Homo sapiens: one gene and its partner. The protein of the gene in region 1 interacts with the protein of each later gene in a biochemical or structural test. Each region holds a gene or a part of one and is shown on either strand. Other genes may lie near its edges.

The links.
Region 2: the proteins of ACVR2B (region 1) and INHBA form a complex in vitro, tested with the Homo sapiens proteins (one study listed by BioGRID).

The regions. Positions count from the first base shown.
Region 1 is NC_000003.12:38,477,182-38,485,363, forward strand, and holds part of ACVR2B (activin receptor type-2B precursor), read left to right. Parts: intron 1-105; coding exon 106-313; intron 314-679; coding exon 680-789; intron 790-959; coding exon 960-1,111; intron 1,112-1,193; coding exon 1,194-1,337; intron 1,338-1,946; coding exon 1,947-2,090; intron 2,091-2,496; coding exon 2,497-2,645; intron 2,646-4,169; coding exon 4,170-4,284; intron 4,285-5,016; coding exon 5,017-5,155; intron 5,156-5,248; coding exon 5,249-5,379; intron 5,380-5,956; coding exon 5,957-6,151; 3' UTR 6,152-8,182. UniProt on the Homo sapiens protein: Transmembrane serine/threonine kinase activin type-2 receptor forming an activin receptor complex with activin type-1 serine/threonine kinase receptors (ACVR1, ACVR1B or ACVR1c).
Region 2 is NC_000007.14:41,700,041-41,707,870, reverse strand, and holds the start of INHBA (inhibin beta A chain preproprotein), read left to right. Parts: upstream 1-4,780; 5' UTR 4,781-4,866; intron 4,867-7,353; 5' UTR 7,354-7,496; coding exon 7,497-7,830. UniProt on the Homo sapiens protein: Inhibins/activins are involved in regulating a number of diverse functions such as hypothalamic and pituitary hormone secretion, gonadal hormone secretion, germ cell development and maturation, erythroid differentiation, insulin secretion, nerve cell survival, embryonic axial development or bone growth, depending on their subunit composition.

The DNA of each region.
Region 1 (8,182 bases):
CCGGCCTCCCTCCCTCAGGGTGGCCTGGCACCCAGGACTGGGAGTAGGGGTTTGGGTGGTGGTCCCAGGGGCATGCTCAGTGGTTCTCTTTTCTCTGGGGCACAGGCTCTGGGCGTGGGGAGGCTGAGACACGGGAGTGCATCTACTACAACGCCAACTGGGAGCTGGAGCGCACCAACCAGAGCGGCCTGGAGCGCTGCGAAGGCGAGCAGGACAAGCGGCTGCACTGCTACGCCTCCTGGCGCAACAGCTCTGGCACCATCGAGCTCGTGAAGAAGGGCTGCTGGCTAGATGACTTCAACTGCTACGATAGGTACCCCAAGACTTGCCCTCCTTTCCTCTTGGACCCACCTGCGCTTATACTGCCCACTGGGCCATTTGGGTCTCAGGATGTCTGAGTGGGAGATAAAGGACCAAGAAGGGGCTCTTGAGATGGTAGCCATGGCCCCACGCCCTTCCACACCCTATTTGTCCTACCTTAGCCCTGAGGAGGGGTCTCAGTGTCAACCCCTGGCTGTTCTTCCTTGGCTTTGGGTCTCCTGTAGGGGAGGTGAGTTCACACCGTCCCCCTGGTGTTGCCCATGAGGTGCTCTGTCTGTGAGGAGGGGTTGGCAGGGCAGGCCTGGGGGAGTCTTGCATCCCCCAGGTGAGGGGTATATGGAAAATTCTGTGCCTCCAGGCAGGAGTGTGTGGCCACTGAGGAGAACCCCCAGGTGTACTTCTGCTGCTGTGAAGGCAACTTCTGCAACGAACGCTTCACTCATTTGCCAGAGGCTGGGGGCCCGGAAGGTAAGGGGGCAGTGTGGAAGTGGGGCCTTGAGTCAGCCGACCTGGGCTTCTTTGGCTTGGAGCGCTTGGCTCCTCAGTTGGGTGGGGTGTGGCTACAGGGCCCTGTAGTCTGGCTCTGGAAGTGTGAGGGTGGGCAGACTGTTTGACACAGGGCTCTGTGTGTCCCCCAGTCACGTACGAGCCACCCCCGACAGCCCCCACCCTGCTCACGGTGCTGGCCTACTCACTGCTGCCCATCGGGGGCCTTTCCCTCATCGTCCTGCTGGCCTTTTGGATGTACCGGCATCGCAAGCCCCCCTACGGTCATGTGGACATCCATGAGGTGAGACAGTGCTGGCTTGGGGCAGGGCAGGATAGAGGTGGGGAGGACAGGCCAGACCTTTTTAAGCCTTGCTCTCCCCCAGGACCCTGGGCCTCCACCACCATCCCCTCTGGTGGGCCTGAAGCCACTGCAGCTGCTGGAGATCAAGGCTCGGGGGCGCTTTGGCTGTGTCTGGAAGGCCCAGCTCATGAATGACTTTGTAGCTGTCAAGATCTTCCCACTCCAGGTGAGTGTTTGAGGGGCTCCATCCAGGTCCTCTGCCTCCACTGTAGCTTGAACTGGAGGCTCTCCTGACCTGGGGCAATCCAAACCCCAAATAATATTGTGGTATGAGAGAAAAGTGAGCCTTACTGGGCCTAGTTACTCATGTTACACTTGGCTGGTCTGTAGATTTCATGCAACTATGGAATTTTATCATAGGACTAGGGTAGGGCTTTGCAAAACCTTGATTTGCCCCGGTTACCAGGGTTTTGTTTTTGACATTGGGTTCTTTCCAGCGGCCCTGGACACCAGGTCTGGCTCTGCCTCATTTGTTGGGTGATACGGGGTCACTCACACCCCATGCATGGACCTTAGTGGCCCCATTTGTAAATCGAAGTGCTAGCCTTAAGTGATCTCAGGGATCACTGTTGGCCTCATGCTCTGGGGCCTAGCTTAATACAGGTCTTCTCCTGGTCCCCTTACAAATGCTGAAGCTGGGAGGCTGGGGGGTGGGGATTGGGCTGGGAGGCTTGAGGGTGGGGAATGGGGAATGGTTGTTCTGCTGTAGGGCAATGTGACTGCAGCAGGGCTAAGCCAGCCACTTGTCCCCCCAACCCCTCGCCCCCGGCCTCAGGACAAGCAGTCGTGGCAGAGTGAACGGGAGATCTTCAGCACACCTGGCATGAAGCACGAGAACCTGCTACAGTTCATTGCTGCCGAGAAGCGAGGCTCCAACCTCGAAGTAGAGCTGTGGCTCATCACGGCCTTCCATGACAAGGTGAGCCACACCCATCAGAATGGACTCTGAGAGGAGATGGAATGTCCCCTTGGTGGCTCTCCATAATATGATGACCCCTTCCCTGTGGAGGTGTCCACCATGAAGTACTCTGCCCCGGTAGCACTATCCACTATGGGGTTACTCCTGCCATAGGTGTGGACATTGGTTCCCCTATGATAGGAACCTCTCACCCTGGGATAAGTTTTTATGATAAGAGTAGTGACTCCATGATTCCCACCCCTAGCCCTCCCTGCCTCCTGGCCTCATCCATCTTCCATATCGATTGTAGTAGCCTTCCAGGAGAGCAGCCTAGCCATTGGCCCACTGAGACTTCTCTGCCAGGGCTGGGCTGGGTCCTGTCCTGTACCCAGAATCTGTGCTCAAGTTCTGTGCTGTCTTCTCTCAGGGCTCCCTCACGGATTACCTCAAGGGGAACATCATCACATGGAACGAACTGTGTCATGTAGCAGAGACGATGTCACGAGGCCTCTCATACCTGCATGAGGATGTGCCCTGGTGCCGTGGCGAGGGCCACAAGCCGTCTATTGCCCACAGGTACCTGGGTCAGCAGGTGCCTTTCCTGCACTTGACCTGGAGCTGTGGGAAGGGTTGGTGGGCGAGAGCAGTGTCTGGAGATGTCTCAACTTCCTAAACATACTTACCCTGCTTGCTGTGTGTCCGAGGCAGCTGGGCACAAAACCTGGCCTTCCCACTGTGTCCTGGGGATGGCATGGCCTCCCAAGCTGGTTTTTGGTGCCCTCTAATGGCCACATGAAGTGCTGACTCCATTACTTTGGTTGGAGAGTTGGCTCAGTAGTTCTCAAATTTTCTAGTTTAGGATCCCTTTATACTCTTAAAATGACTTTTGTGTAAGTGGATTATGACTATTGATATTTGCTGTATTTGAGCACACCCACACATCCCATTCGCTGTCAGAGTGAGGACATCACATCTCATGTAGCCTCGGGAAAACTCTATGCTCCTAAGAGAATGAGCCTTATAAAAGCAAATAAATGAAAATAATTTTGACTTTATAGATTCCCTTGGAACAGTCTTAGAGATCTTCTGGGGTCCTCGAACCACCCTTTAAGAAACTCTGGATGAGCTCATCACTGTCATGCTTACTAAATGGCAGGCAGTGCTCTAAACACTTGAGAAGTATCAATTCATTTGACCTTCATTACCGCCCATTGAGACAAGTACTGTATTTCTCAGCTCTGTCTTGCAGATGGAGGAACAGTAGTACAGAGAAGTTGAATGACTTAGCCAAGGTCTTGTAGCTAGTTGAGTCTGGTTCTGTGACTGTGAGGGAGGGGAATGAACCTCAAATTCCAGCGTTCAAAGCTGAAGGGTCCCTGATGGTAATAACAGTAATGACATAGAAGGTAGACTGTATGAAATTGCCGTTTTTATAGGTCAAAAGGTTGAATGTTGTCTCTGCTATATGGCTCAACTTAATAGGAATACCTAGTAAGTATGCCAGGTGTGGCCCTAAACATTTGCACTTACCACTCAGTCGAATCCTCACAAGGCTGAGACAGGCACTGGGGAAACTGAGTACCACAAGTAGCTTTGCTTAGTTAGAGGTGGAGCTGGGTGCATGCAATAGCACCCTTGCTCCAGCCGGCCTTCATGGTGAGCTTGAGACCCTAAGGGGTCTCTGCAGGATCCTAGGAAAGCTAATATTAAATTCCTATTCTCATTCACATTCCAAATGCTGTAAATTCTTCTCAGAAAACTTGCATCCCAGGCCAGTGTGCCTGTCCACAACCCCTCTGAGAATATATGGGCTGGCCTTTGATAGTGTGGGGACTGGGACAGGGTCTGCCCAGCCATTAGGGTAGGTGTTGCTTTGCCAACCCTGGGGGAAGCCTTCCATCTGAAGTGCACTGAGGGATTCTCACACCCATGTCGGCGCCTGCAGCTGCCTGCTTGTGCTGCTTCACCTCTGCACCCCAGGTAGGGTGGGATGGCCTGGTCTGGGGCCTGACTCTAGGGCACAGACTCTAGTATCTTGGGAACCAAGGTGGGAGTTGGATCATGATGTTAAGCTTTATCTCTGCCCACTTGTTTCCACAGGGACTTTAAAAGTAAGAATGTATTGCTGAAGAGCGACCTCACAGCCGTGCTGGCTGACTTTGGCTTGGCTGTTCGATTTGAGCCAGGGAAACCTCCAGGGGACACCCACGGACAGGTAACAGGCCTCACAGGGCAGGAAGAGAGGGACAGACCCAGGGTAGATACTTTGCCCTTTTTGTGCTCAGCTGGGGAGGTGCAGGGATGAGGGTGACTGCATGCGTTCAGAGCTGTCTGAGAACTTAGAGCAATGCTCTTGTTTGACCAGTGGAGAAACCAAGACCAGGAAGGCAGTGTAGTTTAGCTTCCGTAGGACAGTCAGCTGGGAAATGTAGAGATTCCCCACTGGGGTTTTGACCACTAGTCCTTGCAATCTTAGTCTTTCTCTCACTTTTTTAGTTTTAATTCCTAAGACAAAACAAAGAAATGTACTAAGGATCCAAACAAAGAACCTGGAAAAAGTAACTAAAAATTAAACTTAGGAAATCATTCCTAAAACAATCACTGTTATTATTTTTTAAGTGTTCTCCTTCCCTCTTTGTTTTTGGTCTTAATCTCAGTCAGATACATATCATCTGTAGTTCCTTGTATTAATTTGGTAACAATTCCATTTTAGATTACTATTATCTCCAGGATATAGTATTTAAAAATTATTAGCCAAGTATAATTGATGCTGTGACCTCTTGTAACTGTTGTGAATGTGGTGAATCGAGGTTTGCTATCATTGATAACCTGTCTGAATTGCTCTGTCTTGCCCGCCATCTGGTGCACAGAGGCTGTAACTCCCATGTCCCAGCTGTGTGTGTATGGCCAGTCACTGTAAATCCTGCCCTCCTCTGTCCTCACATAGGTAGGCACGAGACGGTACATGGCTCCTGAGGTGCTCGAGGGAGCCATCAACTTCCAGAGAGATGCCTTCCTGCGCATTGACATGTATGCCATGGGGTTGGTGCTGTGGGAGCTTGTGTCTCGCTGCAAGGCTGCAGACGGTAAGTAGGATGGCAGCCCTGGGCATCCTAGATTGAGTGATAGGGAGCAGTGGGACCTTAGAGTGATCCTGCCAGGCTCTCTCTTTCTCCTAGGACCCGTGGATGAGTACATGCTGCCCTTTGAGGAAGAGATTGGCCAGCACCCTTCGTTGGAGGAGCTGCAGGAGGTGGTGGTGCACAAGAAGATGAGGCCCACCATTAAAGATCACTGGTTGAAACACCCGGTAAGGGGCCTGGTTCAGGCAACTTTGCAGGGGGGTGGAGAAGGGAAAACCCTTCATGTGTAGCAGGTAAGCTGAAATCAAGGGGGAATGGGCAAATAGAAAGTCTGCGACGTTCCCTGGACTCTAGGGATGTGTTCCAGGGGTTATGGGGAGTGAGGTAGGATGATGTCCTTCTCCTGATCCCCACTTTGACTGAACTGCTACATTTTGGGCACTTGTATGGTTTGGGCTTCCAATAAGATTTTGTTTGAATATCAGCACTTCAAGGCAAGTAGTGGTGTCTATCCTAGTAGGGGCCTTGGTGTCTCCTTCTCCCTCCTGTGTATGTTGAGGTTCAATGAACCTTTCCTAGGGCTGTGGAGTGAGGCCAGTAAGCTCAGAAAGATGACTGCCATGAAGGCAGGCATGCTGATTCCTGAAGTTTTCCCCAGGCCTCTGCTGGTGGACCTGCTGCTGTGGTTGGGGCTGGTGGGCTCTGCCTGATCCTTGGGAATATCAAGTTTACTGTCCCCCAAAGCTTTTCCTCACTGAAGGGTCCTAACAAAGGTGTCTTTCCTGTCTGCCCTATGCTGCTTAGGGCCTGGCCCAGCTTTGTGTGACCATCGAGGAGTGCTGGGACCATGATGCAGAGGCTCGCTTGTCCGCGGGCTGTGTGGAGGAGCGGGTGTCCCTGATTCGGAGGTCGGTCAACGGCACTACCTCGGACTGTCTCGTTTCCCTGGTGACCTCTGTCACCAATGTGGACCTGCCCCCTAAAGAGTCAAGCATCTAAGCCCAGGACATGAGTGTCTGTCCAGACTCAGTGGATCTGAAGAAAAAAGGAAAAAAAGTTGTGTTTTGTTTTGGAAATCCCATAAAACCAACAAACACATAAAATGCAGCTGCTATTTTACCTTGACTTTTTATTATTATTATTATAATTATTATAATTATTATTATTAATATTATTTTTTGGATTGGATCAGTTTTTACCAGCATATTGCTCTACTGTATCACAAACAGCGGACACGTCAGCAGGCGTTGAGGTGCTGAGCTGTGGATGCAGAACCAGCGCCATGCTGAAGAGCCTCAGCCACCTCCTGTCCTTTGGGATTCGTTTTTCCCGCTTTCTCTTTGTTTGTCGTCTCAGAATCTGTGACACAAAGAAACCCATCTCCTGTCTTAGGAAACCTAATGCTGCAAACTCTACCTAGAGGAACCTTTGAAGACTGTTACATAAGAACATACCTTCCTCAGAAGAGGAGTTTCCTCTGCCCTCTGCCCTTCTCCCCTGCCTCCCTCCCTCCCCTCCTTTTATTTTGTTTTAGTGAGCTTAAGAAACAGCAGATGTGTCTTTCACGGATCTAACGGGTGTTGTCCTGATCGAGAAAAAAACTGGGATGAGAATGGTTTGGACTGGAGTTGGAAGGGGAGGACGGTACTGGGGGTAGGGTTTGGAACAGAGCTACACTGGACTCGGGCACATTCGGAGCAGCATCCTTTAGTATGGAGGCTACTTCTCAGGTAACCAGGAATTGAGGGGAAGGACCTTGTGGAGGCCGAGCATTAACAGCAAGAGCGGGGTTTGGAGAAAGTCTGAGATTGGGTGCAGCCCTGACTTACCTGCTGGCCCTGACCAGTTTCTTTTCACTAACTTGGCCTTGGGCATAGGATGAAACATTTTTTCTGCCCTAATTTTAAAACTAGGTGAGGGTAGAATCATCACAGGTTAGGAATACATTCTTCATAAGACACGATGCTGTAAATACCCTTAATGGACGAAAAGTTGAAATACTTTTGTTTCCTCTTGGAGCAGTTCAGGGAAATGCCCACAGGGGATTGTCCTGCACAGATAGGGCAAGAGGATTTCCTGGGTGGAGTCTGCCAAGGCCTGCCTCGCTGGGGACCCCAGAGTCCTGCACCTCTGGTTCCGCCCCAGGTGGTGACATTACTGTCCCCGTTCTGTGGCTCGTGGACAAGACTTTCTCCAGACCCCTTAAAGTGGTACATATTCTAAAAAACTGTTTTTCTATTATGCCATAACCTTGCTCTAGTCAGTGAATGTTCCTAATGCTGCTGTTTCAACATTTGAATTCTTTTTAATTTATGAAACATGCTAAATTTTTTTTTTCAAACAAAACACACACATCCACATATACACATGCTTCGCTATGTGGCTTCCAAGGTTTAAATTTTGAAAAGTAAAAGAATTAAAACTTCACGACCACAGATCACCTCAAACCAGAAATACCTCAGAATTTTCTACTTATGTAAGGTTTATTATATATTTTGTTAGTTGTGTTGTCTTGTAGTAAGTATATTTTAATGTAAGTTGGCTTTTGTGACAAGGAAGTTTAAAAGAAATAGAGAAAAAGAAAAAAGTTTGCATCTTCTAGGGAGTGCTACCATTTTTGTTTGATAACGCCCCCTTGTAAATAATTGTCATCAACTGTAGGTTGGCTGTCTGGGCCAAGTCTGGGCATTTATCAGTCTTGTTTGTGAAGGCTTTTCCTTCTGGTTTCTTTAGATCATTTTATTTAAAAACAGTGCATCTCTTCATCGTGAGGGTAGGCAAGGCGGGGGCCGTGGGGAGAGGTTGACCTGGGTGAGAACTGAAGAGGCCGCCTCCTCTTGGGTTGTTTGGAGCTTCACATGTAATTCACATGTAACATGTAACTTGATCGGTCAGTGTTCAGAATGACAAGTAACCCCGCTTAAACTTGGTAGAAGGATGGCCCTTAGACCTGAATGGGGTGATTTTACTTGGGATTTAACTTCTTCAGCAAATTAACAGCAACGTTGGAAGAGATCTGTGGCGCCTCTG
Region 2 (7,830 bases), on another chromosome or scaffold:
TCCTTTATTCATTTACTCTTTTGCATGAGTCTCTTGTCTCCTAACAACTTGGGTGTGGGCCAGCCCATCTCATTTTGTTGCTGGTCACCAAGATTCTGCTTTAGGTCAGAACAAAAAGCCAGCAGGAAAATGTATTGAGACCATACGTGAAAGTTGGTTGGAACAACGAGGTTGCCCAAGAGGAACATTGTATCTGTAGTCTCCAGTAATCAGAAAACATAAGATGCAAAAGGAAGCAGAATCACTTGAATTATTAGTATTTTGTAGAGCTGCAATTTTTTTTTTTTTTTGGTTTCCAAGGCCTCTTGGAGATGGATAGGGAGAAGGTTGAGTGAAACTTTACAATTATAATATGAAATCAGGGTATCTCAACTGCAGAACAATGAACACTGTAGGCCAGGTAATTTCTTGTTGTTGGGGGCTGTCCTGTGCATGGTAGGATATTCAGCAGCATCCCTGGGCCCTACCCACTAATGATCAGTAGAACCTCCCTCCCAGCTGTAACAACCAAAATGTCTTCAAACATGGCCAGATGTTCCCCGGGGAGCAAAATCGCCCCGGTTGAGAACCACTGCTGTAGAATGAAGAGTAATAGGTTACTTACTGGGTTTTCTTCCTCCTTCTCTTTTCCCTAATTGTTTTAGTTCTAGTATCTGGGTTCCCTTGGTTCAGAAAGCAGCATTTCCAAATAATCTAAAAACAGAGTGCTCTTACATAGCAGAAGGCCTTGTGGGATATTCTGGTGGTTCTGAAAGAAATGTGAAGCTTACGAGTCAAGTTTCAGATTAACCATTTCTGACCCTGTTGTTCTCAATGAATTTCAGGGGACTTTTTAATGCTTTCCTCTCTCTCTCTGTTTCGATCTATTCATTCATTGATTTAACTTAAAAGCAAAACAGCTTCCCAGTTCAATTTTGAACGTGAAACGCTGATTCTCCTTTGTCCCAAATCTTTCTACCTAACATTCAGCCCAAGCTATGTACAGGCTGCGGCTGTCCAGGAAACAGGCAGGGTTTGCCAATCCCATGTTCGATTTAAACCATTTGATGAGACCCTTCATCACAGACTCTCGCAGTCTCCCTGCAGCAAATAGTACTCTGGATCCTGCCCACGTTCTCTGGATTCTGAGCTGCCTCTGGAGGGAGTCACCCCTCACCAACAAGGCCAGGTTTTCCGGCCTGAGCCCCAGAATAACACATCAGCTGCTGGGAACACCTCGAGTCCTTTTGATTTCTCTCCATAGTCACGTTTTATGTTCGGTTTCCCAGACGGGATGAACCAGAAATCATGCTTTTTTGGAAACAGATTTTTTCATAGGAAGGAAAGAAAACACCGTGACTCGTCAGCACTCTTGTCCGTGCCTCTGAACCCCCAGCCTTGTGTCATTTCAGCTGAATCAGAGAACAACATCCCAGTCACCTGCTTGGGGCGTTCGCGTCTCCTGGCTTGTATTTTTGACTGAATAACAGCAATCCGTGAGCAGCAGCTAAAATAATAGAGCCCTGAAAAATGCCCCAACCCCCACTCCCTTTTCTGGTCCTGTCTCCTTGCTCCAGGAGTAGTGAGGAAAGAGACCAGTTAATAGCGTGGATGAAAGCTGAAGGACAGACGGTTTGAGAAGAAAAGTGAACATTCTTGCTTCCTCATCTATGCCAACTTTGAACAGGGACAGCTGCTGCCACAGGTAAACACCACTATAGGGTTGGCCGTGGCCCTAAGCTAGGTGTCACCGTAAGCCACGGGCCAGCACACGAACGCTGGCCTCTCCCCCATTCGCACAATTGAGCTCTTATCCTTAAACGAACTTTGTTTTTTGACCAGCTCACTAATTGTGATTGAAAACACCAGCTCCCCAGCAATGCACACGCATTGGAGTTAGCAGCAGCAAGACAGGCCCTAATTGCTCCATTTACATAAAAGTAGAAACATACAACTTCTAAATATAAATCTCTGGCACATCGTTCCTTTTGCAATTACAGTAAAATAAGGTACCACAGTTTCCCTCCCGGCTCCTTCTCGCAGCAAGCTGCTCCACCGGGTTCGCTAGTGGCTGCTCCTCGAGGCGAGAACAGAGCCATGCAAATGCTCCAGCGTGGAGTTGGGTTTGTGAAGTCGCCAGTAAATCAGGCCGCCTCCACTAGGTGAATAACGCGGTGGCAGCGGGCCACTTTGCTAGTGCAGTCGCTGGAGGACCGCGCTCCGCACTCAGAAGGGGGCAGTTGGCTGGTGCGCGAGCGCTCCCGGCTCGCCTCTGTCCGCGGGGAGCCAGCCGGCCCCTCCGCAGGTCCCGCTCCCTGACATTTGCTGTGGTTTCACTCCCTGGCACTGAGGGCTGGGTTCAGAGATTCCCAGCTGCACTCACTGAACAGTGATTTTTTTCCCCTCCCTGAATTCTTTAGCTGCCAAAAGGGGGGAAAAAATCAAGAGCTGCTCTTAAAAGAAGTTGCCCTTGCTGGTGCTCAGGGTAAAAATAGAGGCTGCCGCTTAGACCGGCTTGGCCCTGGCTCCAGGCATCCTGCGAGCTGGGCTCGAGCAGCGGCCGCGTTCCGGCGTGATCCCTGGAAGCTGCCAGCAGGTGCTGCTCAAGGTACAGTAGCAGGGCCGAGAAGCCGGGACCCGAAGGGCCTGGGGTGCGGGGAAGCTCCGGGGGAGGGGGAAGTGAAAGAGAAACCAAACCAAGGAAGGAGAAGGAGATTCTGGTCAGGACTGGGCTGACCAGCTTGTGCCCCGGGCCCTTGAGTTCCGCAGGGAAAAGCTGATTCCCAGTCTAGAATATTCCACAGAAGCTATTTTAACCTGCCTGCTTCCTCCACCACCCCCACCTTGATTTGCACCGAGGGAGGAGGCATTGCCACTGTGGTGCAGGTGGTTGCAGAGGGGTTGCAGCACGGCTGGTAGGCTGGCCTGGCAGGTGGGCACTCGGTGGCATCAGATGGCCAGCGGAGTTTCAGAGTCACACTTGTGTTGTGGCTCCTCTGGTCAGAGAGCTGCAGATTCCTGTGACACCCATGTTTAAGAACAGCCACCAGGCTTCTCAGAAATAGTATCACTTATTATTATCTGACAGCTGCACTTGACCCCCACAGGTTCATATCATGGATCCCATTTTATAGATGGGAACACTGAGGCCTGAGTTTACACGGTGAGTGAGCAGAGGAACTGGGATCTGATCTGGGTTTGTTTTGTGCCCCCCACCCCCACCCCACGTCACCTACACACACACACACACACACACACACACACACACACACACACACACTACTTTGTGTGGAGGCGGAGGGGATGTTTTCAGGACACTAGGGTTCATGTGTGGGTCAGGGGTGAGTTTAGATGCCCTGAAGGTCATTGACTCCACTAATTCTCAGCAAAAAGGGTGGAGAAGTTTCTTTCTTATAAAGGGTTTGAGTTCACCCAGTGCTAAGCTGAGGGGCAGGTTTGGAGTTCACCATCATTAATCCTATTTCTGTCTTCGCCACTCAGATTCACTCTCTTCCTCTACAACCTAATGATTTTTTTCCTACTTCATTTCTGCATATGCAGTTCTTAGAATACTCCTTCCCCCCACCCCCATGCAGCTCAGCACCCACACTTTCTCTGTATCTAGCCAAGAGAGACCCTTTTACACAGAAAACTTCTGGTGTCCTAATGGAACCTGCTTAAGCCACACATCAGGAGGCCAGAGCCTCTATATTTTGCTTGTGGGCACAGTGAAAAGTTTATTTTATGCATGTTAAATCCTGCATACAAAACAACATATCTGGTCATATGGCTCTCATTAGCTCCCAATTTTGCACATTTTATCCAACTTGTCATGAGAACTGGGCTTATGCTTCAACTGTAGTCCTTCAAACAACCCTTCACCGTTCTTGTCAGAGGACCCCTTCCTCCTGTGTTATTTACCAGACTTGCCAACACCCCTCCCCCACAAAAAAAGCCTGACCAGCTTTACCCCTATTTCAAGGAGTGTTCACTTCTTTTCATTAATCTGCTGTTATATTTGTAACAATTTAGAAATTATAGGAGTTGAAGTTCTGGTAAAAAAGAATGATGCATGAGGGTTTTTGTTGTTGTTGTTGTTGTGTGTGTGTGTGTGTGTGTGTGTGTTTGGTTAGTTAGAATGAGATTCTAAAGACCTGGGAAGGATACTTATGAAGTTCATTTAAAGAGAATTACTATTTCCAAAGTTCTTGATTTATGAAGCAGGCATTCAATTTCAAGATGTAAAATAATAGTGTAAGTTGGTTGGGGTCGGGGGAGACCATCATCATATGATTATACAGATTTTCCCAATTTTTTTCCTCAATGAAATAGCTTATTTTAAAAATATAAAATTAGAATCCCTATAAAGAACACTACCAATTTTCTTTCCTGAAAGAAACAATAAAATACTTTGTAAATAGAAGCAACTTCATGAAGTAACAGATGTTTTATGTAAAGACATAAAACTGAACCTGAATATAACGAGACGTGTGTGCGAGTAGTAAAAGTTGAAAGTTGGACACACTCATTGAGACATATCTATTTGATTCCAATGTTTTTCTAAAAGGTAGAGTAATCCTAGCCAGAGGTTTCACTGGCTCAGTGCATCACCCAGTAGTGTCTCAGAAGCCAGGAAGGGCTTTCCATTAGATAATGAATTATGAAATGTCTCACACTGGAAAAACCAGTCATCCGCTGATGTCATGCTGATTCCAACCAATCCCAAACAAAGCCCCAGCCCTCCTCTGTTTCAGTGGTACCAATGTGTGGTGTACAAATAAGTAGTACAGTATAAAACTTCACAGTGCCAATACCATGAAGAGGAGCTCAGACAGCTCTTACCACATGATACAAGAGCCGGCTGGTGGAAGAGTGGGGACCAGAAAGGTAATGCTTTTTAACTCTTACTTCTGAGCTCTTTACACATTCAAAGATAGGAAAGCTAGGAGGAATTTTACAACTAATTGGCATTTCCAATGTGCATTGTGATGTGTACCTTTTTATATTATTCAGGCAGGTTAATACAGCTTTTAATAGTCCTAGAGCATGCAAATAGATTATATGTTTATACAAGCCACTCAGCACATATATACAAGTACATATGCCAAAGAGAAAGCTATTTTTAAGAGTTACATTCGCAAACAGTAAATTCAGGGAACACACACATACTCAGATGCAGAGAGAATCCAAATATTGATAAGTTGCACTTATCTAAATGCTGCTATTAGGACTCCTGAGTTGTTTAGAGCCATTAAACTTTTGGTTGTATTTCAGACTTTCTTGTAAAACTTAATTGAACTGCAAAACATTTTGGGTACTGTATATGTGACTCCAAATAGGTGGATGATGTTAAGTATTATAGCACAAAGATTTTTTATAAAACCATTGTAACACAAATGTCCCCTGCCTCCCCCATTCTCTTTCACCATCCCCGTAAAAAATATGAGGCTTTTTAGGCAATGTTGACAAAGTTTTAACAATAATGGTGGAGTAATTGATGTTTCTGGAGCTGAAACCCCAAAGGTGTTAGGTTACTTGTAACAGAAAAAGTCTTACAAATAGTTGTTTTGGAAAAGGGGACAGTATATATAATTCAGAAAGCATTGTTAACCTGTGCAAACTGTAATTATAACTTAGTGTCACAATTTTCTTGCCCTCTTCCCCTTGCACTCAGATCTTATCTTGTAGTAATGATATTTATTAACTCTTTCCACCTAAACTGCATTGCTTGACTGTAATGCTATGAACACACTAGGTGTCAGATATAAGCTGAGTGTATCTTCAGAAACCAAGAGGGCTTATGTGTGGGAAAGAAACCGAGAGGGAAGGAACGCTTTAACAGATGGACCCCTTAAAGATTCTTCTGCAAGATAAAAGCAATAAGACAGAAAATGAAAAAGAGGGGAGGGGGAAGAATTTTTTTTAAGCCTTAGAAAGGCATTGTTAAAAAATTCACATTTTTCTTTTTCTGTGCACACTAAAATCCATGATGATTTCATCTGCACTGTTCCTTTGAGGGAAAAAGAAGCAGTCAAGGAGGCTGTCTATGAATGCACTGGTCGGGACAGGCTTGGGGCAAGCTGAAAAAACTACCACATGACAGAGAAAAATAATTTGCCAATATATTTTAGAGAGTCTTTTCCCATAGGACCAGTTATTCAAGTCATACGAGTGCACTCTTTTTATAAAAGGATGTGGGAAAGGCCAAGAGAATTTTGCATTTTATCTGTGAAGTCCGGCGAGTGGTGGTAGGCTGTAATGTGTGAGAGTGAGTGGGTCCCCGGCAGAAGGGGGCAGCTGAACGCGACGGGGAGAAAGCGCTTCTGGAACTTGGGCTTGTGACAGGCTGCCTGCCCTCTGGTCCTTCAGTGCCCTGCTGCATTTCACAGTTGGGAAGAGTGGAGTGTATTATATGACCCCAAACAAAAGTTCCATTGCGCTCTCCTCAGATTGCCTGCCAGTGTTGATGACCTGAACATTTAAATATGAATGAATTGGGGGAAAGGACCATCTCCCCTGGATCCCATCAGGCCAGAACAATCCTCTGTTACCCCTGAGTCCCTCTTCCCTGACCTCCACTACCTGTCCACTGGACCTCCCTGCACCCTCTGCCCCACCACGTGGCCAGGTGGGCGTTCTACCACCTAGGGCTGTGGCTTGGCTGGGTGGAGGGGCGGTGGGAACACTTTTTCAATCAATTCATCCCTATTGATTGAGACACTGTGTTTGTTTGGGGTTTCTTTTCTCCCCTCCAAAAAAGGAAGAAGGTGAAACCAGGAGACTGGGCAGAGAAAGAAAAAAAAATAGTGAACAAAATTAGGATAATTTATTTTAGAAGAGAAAGTAGAACCCCCGAAAATGGTGATATTTGAAGAGAGGTGTCTGTGAGGAAGCTAAGAGCAGAAGGAGAGCAGCCTGTCAGAAAACGGGCTGTCCCTCCCTCCCTAATCACAGCCCTACTCACAGCAAACTCCCTCCCTCTCCATTCACTCACTTACTTAGGGCCAATCCTTTCTCTCTCTCTCTCTCTCTCTCTCTCTCTCTCTCTCTTCCTTTCCCTCTCTCCCTCTCCCCCTCCCTTCCCTCCCTCTCTCCCTCTCTCTCCCCCTTCTTTCCCTCTCTCTTCTCTCCCCCTCTCTCCTCTCTCTCTGTCTCTGTCTCCCTCCCATCCTCTCTCTCTGTCTCTGTCTGTCTCCCCGCCACCCTGTCTCTCCCTCCCTCCCTGTCTCCCTCCCTCCCTCCCTCCTTCCTTCTCTCTTACTCGGAGACAGTCAGAACTCTCCTCCCTGACAGCCACAAACCTACAGCACTGACTGCATTCAGAGAGGAACCTGCAAACAAAACTTCACAGAAAACTTTTTGTTCTTGTTCCAGAGAATTTGCTGAAGAGGAGAAGGAAAAAAAAAACACCAAAAAAAAAAATAAAAAAATCCACACACACAAAAAAACCTGCGCGTGAGGGGGGAGGAAAAGCAGGGCCTTTTAAAAAGGCAATCACAACAACTTTTGCTGCCAGGATGCCCTTGCTTTGGCTGAGAGGATTTCTGTTGGCAAGTTGCTGGATTATAGTGAGGAGTTCCCCCACCCCAGGATCCGAGGGGCACAGCGCGGCCCCCGACTGTCCGTCCTGTGCGCTGGCCGCCCTCCCAAAGGATGTACCCAACTCTCAGCCAGAGATGGTGGAGGCCGTCAAGAAGCACATTTTAAACATGCTGCACTTGAAGAAGAGACCCGATGTCACCCAGCCGGTACCCAAGGCGGCGCTTCTGAACGCGATCAGAAAGCTTCATGTGGGCAAAGTCGGGGAGAACGGGTATGTGGAGATAGAGGATGACATTGGAAGGAGGGCAG